Regions from separate parts of the Homo sapiens genome. Here region 2 is linked to region 1. Evidence: fine-mapped expression QTL. Tissue or cell type: whole blood. Region 1 holds a variant in brackets; the other region holds the start of a gene. All regions are shown on one strand. Distances are from middle to middle.

Region 1 (2,765 bases):
ACAGGTCTCATCAGTTCCTTGTAGAAGATACTATCAAAAGCATCTATTTTGGGGCATGCTTATGGAGTGGTTTTCCCTACAGCTGTAGAAAGTCTCCAGCTACTGCATTTTCCTTCAGGATGAGGCTCTGCCTCACTTCCATTATGCAGTCCAGAGGTTCCTAATGAACACATACCCTGATAGGGATCAGACACTGTTCAAAAGATTGACCTGCTTGGCTGGGCGCAGTGGCTCATGCCTGTAATCCCCACCACTTTGTGAGGCTGAGGCGGGCAGATCACTTGAGGCCAGGAGTTTGAGACCAACCTGGGCAACATGGTGAGATGCTGTGTGTACTAAAAATACAAAAATTAGCTGGGCACGGTGGTGCGCAGCTGTAGTCCCAGCTATGAAGGCTGAGGCACGAGAATCGCTTGAACCTGGAAGTTGGAGGTTGCGGTGAGCCAAGATTACACCACTTCACTCCAGCCTATGCGAAGAGTGAGATTCTATCTTGGGGGGGAAAAAAAGATTGACCTGCCTCTGAAACAGTGGCCTCCAGATCTCTCAGATACCCTGCCATGTGACCTTTTCTGAGGATTTGTCAAGAACTTCCTTGTTTGTCCCACTTCTTGTACTGTAAGGGAAATGCCATTTCAACTATGAACAGTGATGATATGTTACAAAAGGTCTGAATGAAGTGGGGTGTAGGATCTGTGTGTGCTTTGTGACAGGAAAGGTGTATGTCAAGCATTTGTAAGATAATAGAAATATCTGTGATGGCACCTTTGCAGATTCTTTTGGACTGCAACCTAGTAACCAAGTAATACATTTTTGAAAACCTTCAGTTCTGTTTGTTTGCAATAAGGTTTATTGAGGATAATCTATGTCACATACAATTAATGTACAGATTTTAAGTTTGATAACAAATGGAACCACCACCTCAGTAAAGATATTAAACATTTTTTTTTCTTTTTTGAGACGGAGTTTTGCTCTGTCGCCCAGGCTGGAGTGAAGTGGTGTGATCTTGCCTCACTGCAACCTCTGCCTCCCAGGCTCAAGTGATCCTCCCACCTCAGCAGCTGGGACTACAGGTATGCACCACCACGCCTGGCTAGTTTTTGTATTTTTTTTTTGTAGAGATGAGGTTTCACCATGTTGTCCAGGCTGGTCTTAAACTCCTAAGCTCAACCGATCTGTCTGCCTTGGCCTCTGAAAGTGCTGGTATTACAGGTGTGAGCCACTGTGCCTGGTCAGCAGTACTTCACTGCTATAATTTTACAACTTTTAAAGATAACCTAATTTATTTTAATTGCTATGCATAATATTACATTGTAAGAATATGACAATTTTTTAAACCCACTTTCTTATTAATGAACATTTAGATTTTCTAATTTTTTCCTCATTTTAAACAATACAGCAATGGACATTTTGGGGCGTATTAATGAGATTCTCTATTATACGTCTAAAAATGGAGTTGCTGATTTGTAGAGTGTGTGCCTTAATTTTCCTTGCCATATTTCTCTCTAAAGTTGTAGTAACAGGTTTACTTCATTGCCATTAGGGGTTTAAGAGCTCTCTGTATCTCTAAATCCTCATCAACATTTGATATTGCCTGACTTTTTACCAGTCTGCTGGTGTGAAATGTTATCTCACCATTAATTTATTTTTTGTATTTCTTTGACTGTTTTTT[A/T]ATATTCATTAGGTTTTCATATTTCCTCTTTGTTGAACTGCTTATTCATCCCTTTACCCACTTTTCATAGCATTATTTGTCTTTTACTGATTTGTGGAATTCTTTATGTGTTCTCAATATTAATTCCTTACTGGTTTTATGTGTTGCAGATGTTTTTCTAGTCAGAGACTTACCTTTTAATTTTGATACCTTGTGTAGAAATTAAAATTTTTTAATAGGGTCACATTTGTCAAATTTTCCTTTCTGGTTTGTGTATTGTATATCTTATTTAAGAAACCCTTGCAGTTATAAAGATATTTGATATTCTCAAAGTTTAAAAGTTTTGCTGTTTACATTTAGGTCTTTAATCTGGAGTTGATTTTTATATGAATAGGAGACAGAAATCTAATTTTTCCCCCTATTTGAATAGTCAGTTGTCCCCACGCTATTTATTCACTAATTCATTATTTCCCTTTTGTGAATTGGCCAATTTCCTTATGTATGTATGCATATATTTCTTGACTCTCTATTCTGTATACTGTTTGTCTATTCGTGTGCTAGTGTTCCATTGCTTTTATTACTTTAAGTTTTTTGTTTGTTTGTTTGTTTTTGACAGAGTCTTGCTGTGTCACCCAGGCTGGAATACAGTGGTGCAATCTGGGCTCACTGCAACCTCTGCCTCCCGGGTTCAAACGATTCTCTTGCCTCAGCCTCCTGAGTAGCTGGGATTACAGGCATGCGCCACCATGCCCGGCTAATTTTTGTATTTTTAGTAGAGATGGGGTTTCAGCATGTTGGTCAGGCTGGTCTCGAACTCCTGACCCTTGGGTGATCTGCCCGCCTCAGCCTCCCAAAGTGCAGGGATTACAGGCATGAGCCACCGTGCCCACCCTATTTTTAAGTTTAAAGAAGTTTTGATATCTGGTAAAGATTGCCCCCCTTCTTTAGAATTATGCTGACTCTTCTTGATCCTTTGCTGCTCTTTGTGAATTTTAGGACCCACTTTTCCATTTCACTAGAAACCAACAATAATCAAAAAACTTGAGATTTTGTTTCAAATTGCATTAAATTTGTAGATTAATTTGGAGAAAATTGGCATCAATGGTTTTGAGTC
Region 2 (2,765 bases), 22 kb before region 1:
TATTTTAAATGAAACATTTTAGAACAATAAATTTTTTGTACAGGAACTTTTTGCTTTAGGGTAAGCAGAAGTTCATTTATTTAAAGAGATAAATCTATCCGTTGTGACTTAGTAGTACAAATGAAGTAGGCAAACAATTTTAATAAGGAAAAGATGATTAAAATATTAAACAGGAGGAAGTTAATTAAAGACATAGTAGCTGGCTCCATTTATTCCCCAGTCTTACAAATGATAGAAAAATATTTTAATGACAATACAAATGAAAATTCCTGGAAATGTTATACTGAAATTAATTAAACACAATAAAGTGAATGGAATATAGTATTCTTTTTGTTGAATTAGGACTTGCAGTTAATTATTAAACACCATCCAAGAGTGTTACCAAATCCTGTCACTTCTGCCAAGAGAGGGTGATTGAGAAGTGAAGGCACCAAAAATCACATTAAATGAGGAATTATTAATTCAATAAATACTTGAGCTACTGTGTAGTAGGCAGTCCCTGTTCTCTGTGCTGGGGATACAGCAGTGAACAAAATAGACTAAAAGACAAAAAATGTTTCCTGCCTTCTTGGAGATTATATTCTATGGGAGGAGTCGGGCAAAAATCAAAATAAGTAAAATAGTGTGTTGGTCAGGACTGTTATGGGAAAAAAAAGAGGAAAGGGGAAGGGAGTTTTACATGAATAGATTTCTTCTTGAAATTTGGTTAGATTTGTCCTGAATTGCTGTAGGTCAAGAACAGGAATTTTAGACTTACTTCATTTTTCCCCCAACAAATTGTATGTTCTTGGGTAAATTGCTCGCCATCTCTTAATTTTCACATTTATAAAATTAGTAGATCAAAACAGCTATTTTTTGTCACTACTGTCATTTAACAGAAATGCTGCATACGTCATCTAATCTACTAATAACAAACTTATGAGGTAAGTAACGTTGTCCCCATTTGACACACGAGCAAACTGAGGTTTAGATTAGGCAACTCATTGGATTACATGCTCCTCTTAATGGCACAGAGGGTGTGTTCCAGGACATGGTGCTTGCCATTATCATTTGGTACTGCTGCTCACTGTGTTGGTCCTATGAGTTTCTTCAGTCTATGAATTTCAGGTCAGGGTGGTCGACGTCTTACAGAGATGCCTGTAATCCTGTCAGCATGAGATTGCATGGGACCTCTGCGGTTTGGTCGCGCATTTACCGCGCCTGTCGCTGGGTCAGACGACCTGGCAGTAGAGGGTGAAGGATGGAGAAGGCAGAAGGCAGGGCACGGAGACTACTAGTCCCAGGATTCCACGGGCGCCTTCCGGCGGAAAGTGTTTGTCATATGGGCGGGGACCCTGGACGACATTCGGGCCGCGGCGGCCGCTGGGTGCAGCCGAGCGGTGTGGAGCGGAGAGAATACTCGAAGGGCTCTCCTGATACTAACAGTTTTACGATTTAAAACTTCGCCAGAATTTGTAAGTAAACAAAATGACTATGCAGCTTTTCCATGTTTTAGTATTGAAACTGATATCTTGAATTTTTGAAAAGGACTTTCAGAAACGGTCCCTCCCCACCCCCACCTTCGTACCGCACAAATGGTATTTTTATTTTTATTGTTTTTGAGACAGGTACTTGCCCTGTCACCGAGGCTAGAGTACAGTGGCGTGATCATAGCTCACCACAGCCTCATACTTCTGGGCTCAAGGGATCCTCCCGCCTCAGCCTCCCAAGTAGCTGGAACTACAGGCCCGCACCACCATGCCCTACTAATTACTTTATTTTTTATTTTTATAGCGACAGGGTCTCACTGTATTGCCCAGGTTGGTCTCGAACTCCTGGCTTCAAGCGATTCTCCCACCTCAGCCTCCCAAAGTGCTGGGATTACAGGCGTGAGCCACCACGCCTGGCCTCACTCAAACAGTAAACGAGGTAGGTTGGGGGTATATTTTTGTTTTGGGATAAAAAGAAACTGAATCTTATAAATATTAAATGGGTTAAGATGTGAGTAAATTTTTGGGTTTAGACTTTAAGGTGAGAAGCCGAATTATTTTAGGGTTCGAAATGTGAGTGGGAAATTTGCCTACTAGTGTAGGCGGCGATTACTCCATTCCCAACATGCCTAGGTTCTCGACATTCATAATCTTAATCCTGAAAAGATAATACTTAAAAAAAAAAAAAATTGGTGCTAAAAAGGGCAAAGTTGAAGTTTTAGTAAGACCTCCTACCATTTTGCTTACATATTATATATGTACCATTCTCCCAATTGTATTTAATACCTGATGAAAAAGTTTGTGCCTTTTCCTTCTTTTAACAAATTTCATAGTACTCTCTACTTTATGAGTAATGCTTAATTATCAGACTTTATACTGTTACACAGATCCAGAAATGAGTTACATAGATTAAACATACTGGCTTTGTTTTACCTGTCTTTAGGTTTTAACACATTTTATTTTGGATCTGTATGAGAGATCCTTTCTTTGTTTTAAGCTGTGGCAGTTATCCATGTTTTTTGAGCTTTTTTTTTTGAGCACAAGATGAGGATATAAAAGGCCAGTGGAAACATTTAATAAAAAAAGGAACTTCATGGTAGAGTAACTACAGATGTTTTTGGAAGACTTTGTGTGGATTAGAATAGTTTGAAAAACTAACATTTGTTATGAAAACTGAGTGCCTGTCTTCAGTAATGTTTATTATGCTGAACGTGCAGTCCACAACTTGATTACCTGTTTTTCTGCTGGTTTGTTACGCAACCTTGCGTGACTCATTTAAGAACTATTTTATCTAGT

Evidence for each region. PIP is the estimated chance that this variant, and not a neighbour inherited with it, causes the effect.
Region 2: it holds the start of TOR1AIP2, and the variant in region 1 is fine-mapped to the expression of TOR1AIP2 in whole blood (TOPMed, PIP above 0.99).

What each region holds. Positions count from the first base shown.
Region 1 is chr1:179,854,366-179,857,130 of GRCh38, reverse strand. The region is part of intron 3 of TOR1AIP2 (torsin 1A interacting protein 2); the gene reads left to right. Among named protein-coding and RNA genes, the nearest start is that of LINC02818, 19 kb to the right of the region's middle. The variant A/T (reference allele first, on the strand shown) is at 1,673.
Region 2 is chr1:179,876,382-179,879,146 of GRCh38, reverse strand. It overlaps TOR1AIP2 (torsin 1A interacting protein 2), which reads left to right and starts at 1,344. Exons shown (of 7, transcript NM_001199260.2): 1 at 1,344-1,454; 2 at 1,774-1,908. RefSeq lists an enhancer at 1,010-1,369.